Linked DNA regions of Homo sapiens. The protein of the gene in region 2 purifies or fractionates together with the protein of the main gene of each other region. This does not show direct contact. Each region holds a gene or a part of one and is shown on either strand. Other genes may lie near its edges.

Evidence for each region. Proteins that work in one complex are often made in the same cells at the same time.
Region 1: the proteins of CST5 (region 2) and FKBP15 purify together in Homo sapiens (co-immunoprecipitation; 2 studies listed by BioGRID and IntAct, with this or other methods). This does not show direct contact.

The regions. Positions count from the first base shown.
Region 1 is NC_000009.12:113,169,255-113,176,280, forward strand, and holds part of FKBP15 (FK506-binding protein 15), read right to left. Parts: intron 5,330-7,026; coding exon 5,174-5,329; intron 4,352-5,173; coding exon 4,199-4,351; intron 2,453-4,198; coding exon 2,327-2,452; intron 1,376-2,326; coding exon 1,268-1,375; intron 689-1,267; coding exon 1-688. UniProt on the Homo sapiens protein: May be involved in the cytoskeletal organization of neuronal growth cones. Seems to be inactive as a PPIase. Involved in the transport of early endosomes at the level of transition between microfilament-based and microtubule-based movement.
Region 2 is NC_000020.11:23,876,733-23,884,358, forward strand, and holds the start of CST5 (cystatin-D precursor), read right to left. Parts: upstream 3,017-7,626; 5' UTR 2,945-3,016; coding exon 2,714-2,944; intron 887-2,713; coding exon 773-886; intron 1-772.

The sequences.
Region 1 (7,026 bases), on a different chromosome or scaffold from region 2:
GGGCTGCTCCTGCAACTGTGGAACCTGCCTCTGTGCTTGACAGCTCCTTGTGGGGACCGGTGGAGCTAGTGACATCATCTTTCTTGAGCTGTGGAGGCTGAGGCTCTCCTGGGCTTTCAGGCCCTAAGGCCAGTGGGTCCCCCTCCTCGGGGTCTGAAGTCAGGGACAGTCTTGTGGAGCTTTCTTGTAGTGGGCCATCTGGTGCTACTTCCCTGACACAGACCTTTCCTGATGGGTTGTCGGGCTTAGCTGCCATTGGGCTGGCAGCAAGTGACTCCTCACACTCAGAGTCCATGGATACAGGGCCTAGGGGCTCAGGTGGAATTGAAGTCGGGGGCCCTAGAACTCTGTGGGATGGGATGCAAGACAGTTCGGGTGGAAGGGAACCATCTTTTATCTCTGAGAGTGCCTCAGCTTCTGAGTCCCCTTTCCTTCTGTGTCCATCCTGGGAAGTGGTGAGGGCCTGAGGAGGCAACGGGACAGCTTCCTCGACCACCTGCTCTGAGGGCACCATGGGGGACTCTGGCCTCTCCCTATTCAGGGGTGCTTGAGGCTGCCCAGAACTGGCTGAGGCTGACTGCTCCTGGGAAGGTCTTCGTGGCCGCTCTTCTGCTTTTTCTTCTTCTTCTTCACTGCTGCTCTCTTCCTTCTCTTGCTCCTGTTGGTTTAACAGCTGAAGAGTCACCATCTATTCAAAAGCCAAGGAAGAGATGGTCACTGAAAGGAACACAGTAGCCACTCCTAATTCTTATTAACACTACTGGTCATGTAGTTTAAATGACTTTGCTTCTTTCCTGTTAAAAGAGGCTGACTATATCTGTCAAGTCACTCCAGGCATCCTAATTACTGAGGAACAGTCCTGAATAATTTTCTTTTTTTTTTCTTTGGAGACAGGGTCTTGCTCTGTTATCCAGGCTGGAGTGCAGTTGGGGGCAATCATGGCTCACTGTAGTCTTGAACTCCTGGGCTCAAGTGATTCTCCTGCCTCAGCCTCCCAAGTAGCTGGGACTACAGGCACGTGCCACCATACCCGGCTAATTTTTAAATTTTTAATTTTAGTAGAGACAAAGTCTCATTATGTTGCCCAAGCTGGTCTCAAGCTCCTGGCCTCAAGCAGTCCTCCCACCTTGGCCTCCCAAAATGCTGGGATTACAAGCATAAGCCACTGTGCCAGCTTTGAACAATTTTTTATTCATGATCCCTTAGAAGGTACTTAAGCAACAAAATGCCCAATACGATGAAACAAATGACAGCTGGCTGGCTGTACCTTGATCGTATTCATGATGGTTCCCAGAATGGTCCTGCCATTGTAAGATTCCTCCAGCTCAAACTCTCTCCGTAAGGACTGGAACACCTGGTTCATGATCTTCTTGACCTGTGTGAACATCAAAACACATGCTGTCAAAATCAAGTCACTAAAGGATGCATTAAATTCCAGAGAGGTGTATGGAAGGCCAAAATGAAGCCATCTTAGATCTCTACACTGGGATACTGCTGGTCATAAGCAGAGACACTGAAGGCTGTCACTGTGGAGAGGATGATATTAAATAATGAGCAGCACTTTGACAGAAGGGCTAGTCATGAGAGTTACCTATCAAGGGCAGGCAAGCTGTGGTCTGTGTGCCCAAGACTGCTTAAAGACCATTTCTTGATGTCCCCCTCCCACTGTGAGCACCACTAGGAGCTGCCATAGGCTCTAAGGGTCAGAGGCCAGTGGATGCTGGGCACACTCCCCAAGCCCCATTCTTCTTCTGTGGTTAGAGGCCCTTCCTATACCTGTCAAAACCTCAGAAAGATAGGGTTCTTTTGGGTTTGCCACTTAATATGTAAGTATGTATTTGTTTGTTTTCCCACTAGGCTGTAAGCTCCTTAAACTCAAGAACCAAATCTGGGCCGGGCATGGTGGCTCATGCCTGTAATCCCAGCACTTTGGGAGGCTGAGGCAGGCGGATCACAAGGTCAAGAGACCGAGACCATCCTGGCCAACATGGTGAAACCCTGTCTCTACTAAAAATACAAAAATTAGCTGGGTGTGGTGGCGCGTGCCTGTAGTCCCAGCTACTCAGGCGGCTGCGGCAGGAGAATCGCTTGAACCTGGGAGGCGGAGGTTGCAGTGAGCCAAGATCACATCACTGCACTCTAGCCTGGTGACAAAGTGAGACTCCGTCTCAAACAAACAAACACCAAATCTGGTTCATTTTAAAGTCATCAGACAAGTAAAACATCACTAAAGTTAGAAAAAGAGCTATTAACACAACATACTGGCCATGTTCTTTCTGAATGCTTGATATAAATGGCTTGCTTCTCATTTGAAATACCAGCTCACCTTCTCTGAGGGGTCAGATGCAGCAGCTTCAACCCCAGACATCTGGGACTTGTTCTTCTCTAGTTCCTTGATGTGCTGTTCATTTTGCTTGGTGAGAGCTGTGATTTGGGCCTGGAGGGCTAAACACTGCAAAACAAACAGACTGTGGCTGTGGCCTCAGGAACCAGGTGAAGGTCAGAAAACCCAAGGGGAGGAGAACCACCCAAACATCAAGTCTCTTTTTTTTTTTTTTGCATATAATAAAAAGACAATTTTATTTCAAATTCTTTTTTTTTATTATTATTATACTTTAAGTTCTAGGGCACATGTGCACAATGTGCAGGTTTGATGCATAGGTATACATGTGCCATGTTGGTGTGCTGCACCCATCAACTCATCATTTACATTAGGTATTTCTCCTAATGCTATCCCTCCCCCCGTCCCCCAACCCCCGACAGGCCCCGGTGTGTGATGTTCCCCGCCCTGTGTCCAAGTGTTCTCACTGATCAATTCCCACCTATGAGTGAGAACATGCAGTGTTTGGTTTTCTGTCCTTGTGATAGTTTGCTGGGAGTGATGGTTTCCAGCTTCAACCATGTCCCTGCAAAGGACATGAACTCATCCTTTTTTATGGCTGCATAGTATTCCATGGTGTATATGTGCCACATTTTCTTAATCCAGTCTATCACTGATGGACATTTGGGTTGGTTCCAAGTCTTTGCTATTGTGAATAGTGCCACAATAAACATACATGTGCATGTGTCTTTATAGTAGCATGATTTATAATCCTTTAGGTATATAACCAGTAATGGGATTGCTGGGTCAAATGGTAATTCTAGTTCTAGATCCTTAAGGAATCGCCACACTGTCTTCCACAATGGTTGAACTAATTTACACTCCCACCAACAGTGTAAAAGCGTTCCTATTTCTCCACATCCTCTCCAGAATCTCTAAACATCAAGTCTTAACCTCGCCTAGGTCTGCTGGTGTCCACTCCCTCAGCCCCCACCCACGACCCTCTGCCTCAGAGAGTTCTATCTCCTCATCATTCGACTTCAACGCAAAACTTCACTTTCTCTTTCCCAAGAAGGTTGCTTGCCTTGTTCCCAATCAGGTAAAAAATATAATGAAAAAAGAGCAGGAGGGTAGGTAATAACTAGTCATTTAGACATAAACATTCAGCATTAACAGCAACCCATTTGTCATTCATCTGCAAGATTGCCTCCAAGATCTCTGAGCCAAAAGTTTTCAACTGGACACTTTAAGGAAAGAAACTGACCTCGAATATGGACTTTCACACCATGACCCTAAGCCATGTCCCATCTCTCTTTTTCAGGCCTGATGATCCCACCACACCCCAGCCTCCATCCTATCTCAGTGCCTTTGCCCAGGATGTTCTGCCTCCTTTGCTGCCTTACCAAAGCTATTTGTCCTTCTTGGCTCTGCTCAAATGTCACCACCTTTGGGAAACCTTCCCAGCTCTCCTGGGTACTTCCTCTTCTGGGCCCCATAGCACTTAACACCTATCTTTGTTTCTTTGTCTCCCTTTCTTGACTGTGAGATACATGAGGGAAGGGTTCCTTGTATGCACTTCCTTTAACACACTGGATGGAATACAACTGACTCTCAATAAATATTTGCTTAATAAATGAAGGATCCAATAATAATGGGAAACATGTTCCGGAACACTAGTGCTGTTTTCTCTTTTTCCAGGTCACTGACCTATCACCCCACATAAGTATGTGAAAGATAACTGACAAGCTAAACAAGTGTGGTTTTGTCTTCTAGATATTAATAACTTTCAGGCTTAGAAGGATCGACAGGACTCAAACAGCCTGCTTGCCTCAAATTAACTGGGCTGCCTAAACTGTCTGACTCAAGAAAAATATGTACCTTTTCCTGAAGTTGTACCAGCTTCTGCTGGTAGGCATCTCTCTGTGCGCACACCTCCTGGTACTGCTGCAGGTGCTCATCCTTGGCGGAGGCCAACAAATGTTCACATTTTGCTTCCCACTGGGTCTGTAGCTCAGCCTGTACTAAAGACAGCTGCCAAGAGAAAGTAATGACCATATCATCCTTGGGGGTGGGGGAGTGAGATTCCATTGCACCTAGGGAAACCCATCTTTCAAAAAGCAAAAGAATAAGCTAACAGCCCAGATTTAACTGGGAAACTGTTTAAAAGACTCATTACTTTTAAAATAAATGCACTTCTTAAGATGTCATTGGTTGTCAGGACTCCAAAAGGTACTCCAAGCAGACAAAAGTGTGCCTATCTAGATAGGTCCCTGGAGGGCAGGGCCATGTGATCACTGCTTTTCAGGGTCTGAACCCTAAACTTTATAGGTTCAGAAACTTTTTTTCACCAAAATTCCCAGAGGTGGTCAAATTGAGGGCACCAATGCACTCTAATTAAACAAATGTATGCATATAAATTTTAAGCTTATAATGAGAAAGGTTGCTGTTGCACAGACTAGAGATCCAGCTGTGTCCTGCCACTATCCCTGGTTCCCTTCCTGATGACCTAAATCAATCCCTTCTTTTCAAGGATGATAATGTGCCTGAAGGATGGTGTCCAATGGTTGATGGTTTTGGCCTTACCATGTTTGGAATTTTTTTTGTAAGGAAACTATTTTTCATTTTTACTTATGTAATTAAATATTAACTAAGCTTTAAAAAAAGAAAGAAGATTCTCCATTTGATTCCTGGCTCTCCTGCACATATCTGGATTACTTTTTCTACCTTTCTCCAAAGTGAGAGTATCAGCTATGAGAAATGTCATCCTAAAGGGTAAGGAAGAAACCAGAAGCTTTTCTCTCTGAGTCCTTCACACCTTCCCTCTATTTTCAAAGTGCTTCAGTTTCCCATTACCTGCTCTGCAGCTGCTTGGTCTGTGGACACTCGAGTCTTTTTCAAGAGCTGTCGAAGTTTGTCCAATTCCTCCTGGTATGACTTGCGAATTTCATCTATCTCCTCCTCGGCCTGAGAACGCTCTTGAGCTGACTTCTTTTTCCTTTCTGAGAGGTTCTTAGGAACAAGAGAACCATCATCAGCTCTAGCTTGTTAACAGAGAATAAAGAGGGATGATGGCGGTGGCAGTTAATTACCTTGTGGAATCCTTACTCCATTTCTGAAAACTCCATTTTTTAGTTGAATTTTCCCCTAAATATTTAACATTCTTGGCTACTGGGTGAGGAAAATGGTGACAGGAGAAGGAAAACAAGAAGAGCTGTATCTACCCCTCTATTAAGAGCTAGGGAAATTGGGAGGCCGAGGCGGGCGGATCACGAGGTCAGGAGATCGAGACCATCCCGGCTAAAACGGTGAAACCCCGTCTCTACTAAAAAATACAAAAAATTAGCCGGGCGTAGTGGCGGGCGCCTGTAGTCCCAGCTACTTGGGAGGCTGAGGCAGGAGAATGGCATGAACCCGGGAGGCGGAGCTTGCAGTGAGCCGAGATCCCGCCACTGCACTCCATCCTGGGCGACAGAGCGAGACTCCGCCTCAGAAAAAAAAAAAAAAAAAAAAAAAAAAAAAAAAAAAAAGAGCTAGGGAACATCCTAACTTTAATAAAGGTACAGGAAATCAGACATTCTCATACCCTGATAGTAAGAAAACGAATGGATATACTCTCTTTGGATAGTAATCCTGTGAAAAGCCTTTAAAAACATACGTATCCAGAAATTCCACAAATTGTAATTAAGGATTCAATAAGTCATAGTCATAAAGAGTGTGTTACAAGGATGGTCACTGTAGTAGTATCTATAGTAATGACAAACTGAAAACAGCCAAGAGGTTAGAAGGAATTGGTTAAAAATAAATAAATAAAATGGAAAAAATCCTGGAAAAAAATGCAATTGCAGACCAAGATTTACCCTCTTAAAAGGCACTGGGCCAAAACAGCTTTACCTAATGAGATTTACTGAAGCCTCAGGAGCAGTTTATTATTTTCATATTTAAACGATTCCAGAACAGACAAAAAGATAGAAATGTTCTCACTTTGTTCACTTAGTATTTCCTGATATTAAAATTTTAACCAACAAAAGATACTATAAATAAAGTTAAAAGACAGCAAGCTAGAAAAATATTTACAACATCTATGACTGACAAAGGATTGATACCCTTAAAAGGGTTTACAAATCAAACTAATAATAGGAAAAAGGATAAAGGACACTAAAGAGAGAATGTACATAAGAAATACAAATAGGTATTAAATATATGAAAGCTTTACTACTAATAAAAATACACATTAAAACAAGATAACATATTTCACCTGTCAGACTAATGAAGATTAGAAAAAGTGATATATGTAGAGTGGGGAAGAATGTGACAAATGGGCTCACTCACATACTGCTGAAAGTGTAAGCACTATTCTTTGAGGATAACCTGGTAATATTTATAAAAATTCAAATATGTAGCCTTCCCTTTGATCCCATGATTCTTACTCATGCAATCCATCACGTAGGAATGCTCAAACAAATTTGCAAAAACAGTTATATAATATGAGAATGTCCATAGAAGCAGTGCTTAAAATAATGAAAAAATAAAAACATAAATATCCATCGATAGGCAAATCATTAAACAAATTATGGTACAGCCTCATAGTAGGCTACTATGCAGCAGTTAACTACGAGTGAGAAAGATCTCCTTCTTATGTAGTACAAGTCCATGACATTTTCCTAAAAAACATTAAACGTGATACCACTACTGTAAAAAAAGTTGTC
Region 2 (7,626 bases):
GAGCAGAGACCTCGAAAGAAATCCTGGGTTCTTGGAGAGGCTGATGTTGGGTGAGCTGGGGCAGGTCCAGGGCTTCTCAGCTAACAGGCATTTAATTCCTTCTAATGTGCTCAGAGTGGCTGTGGCTGCAGGCAGGTGCCTGAGGCTGGGGTTAGACAGAGCCCCTTCTTTCTGACCAGAACCCAGCCCAGCAGCTTCTTCCTCCAGTCCAACAGACAACACCCCAAAGCAGGCAGAGTTGACCTCCCAGTAACCATTACCAAGCTAAAGTCTTCCTAGCAAAACAAATTCATCACCCCTATCCACACCACTCCATCTGCACACACATAGGCATCTATATTAACTCACAGCAACCCTCACCCAAACGAATATATGCATGAACCCACATACTCCTTCACACATCCACACACATGCACACACACACTCCTGTGCATCTTCCTCATGTATGCACACATATGCATCTTTCTACATGCATAGCCACATGTGTACACCATCCCACACATTCATTCATGCATACACAAAACTCCATATGCACAAACACATTCATTGACTTCACAATACACATCTGCACATGTGTGCCAAACACACATGCATCCTCCCATGCACATGAATACATCCTTGCATACGTGGCCCCACAAATATCTGCACACATGCACACATGCCCTCCAAAGCATGTGCAGGAGTACAGATGCGTGCACACACACATACACACACACACATGCACACACTGCTCTGCGGTACTTGATGCCCCTGACCCACATCAGGCACATACCTCTTTCAGTTTTGGCTGGTCATTGAAGGGACAGTTGTCCAAGTTGGGCTGGGACTTGGTGCATGTGGTTCGACCGAACTTCACATTGAAGTAGTAGTTCACCCCACCCACGATCTACACGCGTGGAAGAGCAGGAAGCAGGGGCAGCATGCTGTCAGTTTCATGCACACGCAGGCACTTCACTGTGACTGAGTCACTGGGCTTGCCTGGGGCTTCATGCCCACACTGTCACCCAAAAGGCACACAAGCCACCTTCTCCTGCTGGCTGGCAGTGGTAGTGTGTCCCAGTCCTTCCTAGTAACTTGTTTTCTCTGGGTATCTCAAGCAAGCTGTCTCATGCAGCCCAGTAGAAAGAGAAGCAGGGGCAGGGCAGATGGAAGCCAGGGCCTAAAACCCCCTTCACTGGATTCAGGAACAGAAGGCACAGCTCTGGGGAACCAGCCAGGGTGGGACAAAGAAACAGTCCTGGCACCAGGCTTGCAGGGCAGGGTCTAAGCACCAAGTGAATGCTCTTTCCCACAGCAAAGGATTAACTGAATTCTGCTACCTGTGCTCAGGGGGCAGGGACACTGGTCCCATCCTAGGAAGGCTGCCACCTGATGATGAAATTTCAGCTAACTTCCAGCTCCTGGCATTCAGTCCACAGAGCATCTCATTCCTGCCATTTAACCCAGAGGTATTTTTCCTCATTTCTCAGTAGGAGATGAGATGCTCACATACATTGATGTTTTAGGCCAATAAACATTGCCTCCTGCATGCCTCCATTCCAGGTGTGATTTTCAAGGCAATATTTCTAAAGTGAGTCACACACCTGCATGTCTTAGGGTTGCAACTTCAGAAGAGAACTGAATGCTTTCCCTGCACAGTGCCGCCCCAAAACATGACTTGTCAGAACTGTGGAGAAGCATGGGATGAGGGACCCTGGGACCAGGGTGCTAGACCTTGCCCTGTGGAACCACACACAAGTCCTGTAGAACCACATGGAAGTCCTGTGATCCCTCCGGTGTCAGTCTGCTGCTCTGTAAAATAGGCTCCAGGGCCCAACGATCTACATCATTCTGTGCTTCACTCCCAGTGAGTGACACACTTAAGAGGGAGTGCAGGCCAGCAGGGACCACAGCACCAGGGAATGCCCCTCCTGTGCAGGGAGAGGGCTGCAGGAGGAGAAACAGGGCTGGTCTGGACTCCTCTGACTTTCCAAGAGAAGGTGGAGGAGCTCTAAAGGCTGGCAGGCCATATAGCCCTGTGGTCGCTGTGTCACTGCTGCTCTGCCATGGGACGTAGGTCAAGCTGGGCTCGGTAGCCCTGCTGAAGCTTCCTCCCTCTGGACCCAACCACCTCCTTCACTCTGCTGGGTGATTGCTGTCCTCATTTTGCTGAGGTCTAACTCTGCGTTAGCTGGCAGAGGCAGGGTCAGGCATGCTCTACCCCAGCAGGAACTCAGCTGTCCTGGGCTGTAGGGGGTGGTCAGCCAGCCTGAGAGTGAAGGCCACTAGCCATAACGGGCTGTGCCCAGGGGCGTGACTTGGGAGGGAAGCGGGGCTATCCAGGACAAGGAGTCAGGTTCCCGTGTGGCCCCTGTGGAGAGGACTCAGGGAGGAAGATGAACCTCGTGGCCTGGATCTCATCCTGAGCAGCATCAAGCCCACCCAGAGTCAGCACAGTCTCCATCCACACCTGCTGGACCCTGGGAAATGCCACAGTCATGGTACAGACACAGTGGCTGCTGCAGGTTAAAAGAGGCCGAGGGGACAGGACAGGGCTGAACTCATGCACTCACGGCCAAGGAGTGTCCTAGGGCATGAAGACCATCAGCAGACAGTCAGAGAAAGCTGAATGAGTCTGCGGTTTAGATAATGTTGATTTGCTGGGAGTGCTCTGGGGGGTGAGGCAAAAAACCCAGCTGGGACTCAGGACCCCCAGGGTGGTGGTAGCACGCACCTGCTGGTAGGCAGCCATCACCTGCAGAGGGCGGCTGTAGTACTCATCCTTATTAATGACCTTGTTGTACTCGCTGATGGCAAAGTCCAGGGCACACTGCACACTCTTGTCATTGAGGTCTGTGGCATGGATGCCACCTGCCAAGGTCCTAGATTGGGCCGAGGCACTCCCGGCCACGGCCACCATCAAGGCAGTCAGCAGCAGCAGTGGGGTGTGCATGGGCCACATCATGTTCTACTGGGACACAGAGCAAGGAGCTGGATCTCCCAGAGAGCAAAGCAGCAGAAGGCTGAGGCAGGAAGCCCAGGCCAGAAGCTAGCTGTGCATTTATCCTACTTGGGTGTCCCCCAACCCCACCTGCTCCCTGGCCCCGCCCCTGGCTCCTCCTCCTCTTTCTACCCCTCCTCTTCTGTCTCTATCTCCCTTTCCACCCCCAACCACCTCCCTCCCTCCCTAAGTTCCCTTCGCTCCTCCCATGCCTCCTCCTCATCCTCCTCCCCACTCCTGTCCTGACCGCAACCTCCCCACAGCCCTGCCCCTCTTCCTCAGTGCTCTAAAGCTTGGCTCACTCTGGATTCCAGAGAGGTGACACCGCTCCCTGGGCTGTGAAACCTGGTGACCACCTATGTCCACAGGAAAGGGAGAAATACAGGGCTTGGCCTTCTAAAGTCTTCAGATGTCAGGGGCATCCAGGAGCACGTGGTCATGGTCTGGGAATTCCTGGGGCAGGGAGCTGTTTCAGAAGCTCCGGGATGACCTTGTCCATGCCCTCTTCTGGGGAACTTCTTTGCCAAACATAAAGTAATTAACCTTTGGGTAAAGTTCACTGGGTTCTCGTTTCATAACTCCTCATTATTCAATAAACAAACCTGTCACCAGCTTCCCCCTGCACCAAGCAGTCTGGGCAATAGAGCCGTAGACATGAACTTGCAGAGCTGCCATCCAACAGAGATGTGACAGAAACCCAGGAGCAATTTAAAACACATTTGAAAAAGTTAAAAGATACAGCTGAAAGTAATTTTGGTATTTCTACTTTAACCTAATATATCCAAAATACTTCAACACTTCAGGACTATTCTTAAGGAGCTAGTTTACATTCTTTTGTGTGAGTGTAATGTCTTGAAGTTCCCTGTGTATTTTTTACAGTTAGACCAAGCGTCACTGTGGACTAGCCCCATTTCAAGTGCCCTGTGGCCACGAGTGGCTGCTGGTGGCTGTGGTACTGCATAGCCCAGCCATTAGGGTGTGTGGGAGGATGCAGAGTGGTGATCAACAATTTAGATCAGGGAATTATAGTCGCTCAGTTAGAGAGAGGGTGGGTGCTACTGGACCCTGGTCAGGGAAGTCTCTAAGAGACCGGAAAGGTTGAGAAGCCCCAGGCAGCAGGGAATAGTCAGTGCAAAGGCCCTGAGGCAAGGCTGGGCATGCCTGCTCCAGGAAGAGGAAGCTCCTGGAGGGGGTGTGAGCAGGGAAGGGAACGACCTGGAGTCTCACGGTAACTGTGGGTGTGTCCAGGTGGAAGGCGCAGGGAGACCCCTGGCAGGTGGTGGGGGTGTCAGGAGAAGGAGCAGCAGCCACAGGATGAATGTGGGAGCCCAAGAGCCTCTCTTGCTCCTCCCCTCTGGGAGACGTGCTGCCAGCACTGGTCCTCTGTACACTGCTTGGAAAACTCATGTAATATTTTAAAAATTACATTGAATGAGGTAGAATTTACACACAATAAAATGCCTAATTGTATGTGCCCAATCTGGGGGATTTCATAAATGCATACACTTGTGTTACCACTTTGTCCACACCTGTGATATCTGCCTCACCCCAGATGGTTTCCTCCTGCCTCTGAAGCCCACCCTCATGCCCACCCGACCCTGGCAGCCCACATCTGGTCCTGTGGACTCCTTTGTTGCCTGTCCTTGAGCTTCCCAGGAATGGAATCCTGCAGAGAGAGCCCAGGTGTGTCTTCGTCCTTTGCTCAGCGTGGCTTCATTGCCAGGATTGAGAGTTCTCCTTCTCCACAGACTGAGAGGATGTGGTCAGTTGGGTGCCCTGTGGGCTGACAAAGCCCCCAGCTCGGGATGCTGTGGGCCTGGACTGGAATGTGACTTCAGGAGTAGGGAGGGTGGAAGGAGGCTCTGAACAGACAGCTGCTCCCTTTGTTCTCTCAACCCCCCCTCCATGCCTGAAGGTGATCCTGCGGCAAATGCCCTTATGGCGAGGTGGCAGGCTTGGCCAGAAACACCAGGAAACCCTGGGCCTTAGCAGGACACCCAGAGGACTCTCCTGGGAGTGGTGGAGGTGAGGGTCGGCCAGGATCAGCCCAGACCTGCTATAATCCTGGGGCTCCGCCATGGCTGGGGCTGCATCAGCAGGAACCCGACAGCGGGAACAATATTACTCATGGGTGCTCATGTTCAGTATGAGGACAGGGGACCTTTTTACCCAAGGCCCAGTGACCATTGCACCCCACTGTGAATCCAGCACCCCTAGAAAAGCCATGCACTCCAGCAGATACAGCAGGTGGCCCAGGGATAGTGTTTACTGCTGGGTGAGGGAGGGAAGGTCTTCAAGCAGGGCTGCACGTGATGCCTCCTAGTTAGACAGGAAATTGGGGGAGATTCCCAGAGAAGGGAAAGAGAGGGCAGTCCCTGGCCAGGTGCTTGTGGGCAGAATGGTCATCTCCCAAGTGTGGGAGTTGGGTCTCCTCTGTGGCTCCCACCTTCCCTGGCCGCTAGGTCTCAACTCTCAGGAGGATGTGTTGTGCAGAGGGTAAGCTGAAATACATACAAATCTCTCCTATCTTTTATCATTAGGAAGGAGATGCAGGTCATCCACATAACAGGCATATGGTGGTGGGTGGAGTATGGGGTGGGAGCTGGAGTGCTGGCCTATTTCCCTGTATGTGATGCCACCGCCAGTGGTCATCCTCTGTCAGGACACTGGAATGAGCTATAGGGAGGGTCAACAGGCCTGATACAGTGGCCACTCTAATCTTTGTAGTCAGACCCCCATGTAGGGCACTCTCAGGAACTACAAGAGATGCATCCAGTATGGGTGATGGTAAGTGGAAGGTTAGGGTAGATGGACAGCTGCTCCAGCTGCTGGGTGACCTTGGGAAAATGTTTTGCCTTCTCTATGTGTCATGCATATGGAAAGGTGAGCTGCTTTGTAAATGGTGGTGTCTGGTGGTTCAAAACCAGCAAGATAAGTTTGATTCTGCAGTGACATTTAAGTGTGGTTAAAATTTACAATAGCCCAGTGTTATGGCATGCCTGTACACCTACTCTTGAGGCTGAGGCAGGAGGATCTCTTGAACCCAGGTGTTCCAGACCACACTGTGCAACACAGTGAGATCCCATCTCAAAAAAAGATGGAGACTTAGTTCCTATAGCTTACAGCTCCAATGACAGGCTGGCAGGGACCCAGAGATAAACAATGGACTCAGGACCAAGCCTGGGGCCTCCAGCACCTTCGTAATCTGGAGGAGTCCAGTTGCCCAGGAGGGGGCATGTTTCCTTTCTGCCAGTGGATGAAAGAGAAAGCCGTGTTCTCCCAGGTTGCGTGTGTAACTTGATCCCATGATTGAATTAGTAGAGTGAGAAATTAGGTGAGTGACAGAAGTTCTCTATAATAAATAAGCAGTAAAGGGAAACACTAAACAATATTATAACCAATAAATACCTAAGGGCATAAACATCACCTAAAGTGCAAGTGGTTAGATCAAGTTGGCCAAGAGTTGAGATTCTGCACATCCGGGTTTTGAGCAATTAACATTCAGTGTCTGTGATAGGAGATGGGACTGAGCAGCCACGGGATTTGTTGGCTTCTCAAAGGGGAAGCCCAGAATCCTCCTTTATGGAGTGCTGCGAGTTCTCTGGGGTCAAGCTTGTCCCTTATGCACACCCTTCCTCCTTCCCCCTCCCTGCTCCCAACTGTGGGGGACCTGAGATACTCCTGGACCATTGGCCACCATTGGTAAGCATCTGGGCTCTGATGGGGATGAGGCCACATTATTATGAACTCTGGTACTTGCTGTGAAGCATGCCCAAAGCCCCTACAGGAAAAGGGCGTACAGAGCCCAGGATCTGAGGTCTGAGAGTTTGGCCCTTTATGGAGGGAAAGAGAATCCTTGGGAAGTTTCCTGCTCAGGGATCAATGTGTAAACAGCACTTAGGATTTTAGATTGCAAGGTTACTATTTATTTTCTCAAGGAGTACATTCTTCCTAGCAGAGCCATGGCTAGAGAACCACAGCCGAGTGGAGAGGACAGGGAGAGTTCCTTGGGAACTCGGGTTGCTTGCTGATGCACCCAGGGACTTCCCCCAACTCCCTGGTCCCAGCCTGCAGGGGCCTGGCCCAGGAGAATACAGATGGCTCTGAGGGGAGAGCAATCCCCTTGGCATCTCTGTGTGGTGAGAGTTTCCTTTCTAATCCCCATTCAGGTCACTGCTGGGACTTCCCTGTCACTGTTTGTCTAACCTTAAATATCAATTCCTTTAGCAGACTGCAGTGGCTGTGGAGAGTGGTTCCTGTTCCTGCCTGGAATCCTGTTACACTCAATCAGTGGGTGCTGGAGCTGGAGCCAGAGGCCATCAGGACAGCCTGCCTGCTCTTGTGGCCCTGCCTGCCCTCTCCTCCTGTCACAGAGGAGCTGGATCCAGTGAAAAGACTCTCTAACGAAACTTTAAGGCTCCTCTGAGCCTTCTTCACTAGGCCTCAACCTTGGTCTCCAGCTCCTACCTGCCAGGTCTGCATTGCTCAGTTTTAGGAAAGAATCCTGCTTCCTTTTAGGGAGAATCCTGCTGTCCTTGGGGTCTGATCACCCTTGACATCTGATCAAGTTCCTCATCCCTCAGCTTTGATGTCTAAGGCTGTGTCCTGCCTTTAGCAAGAATCCTGTTTGGTCAGTTCAGCCAGAA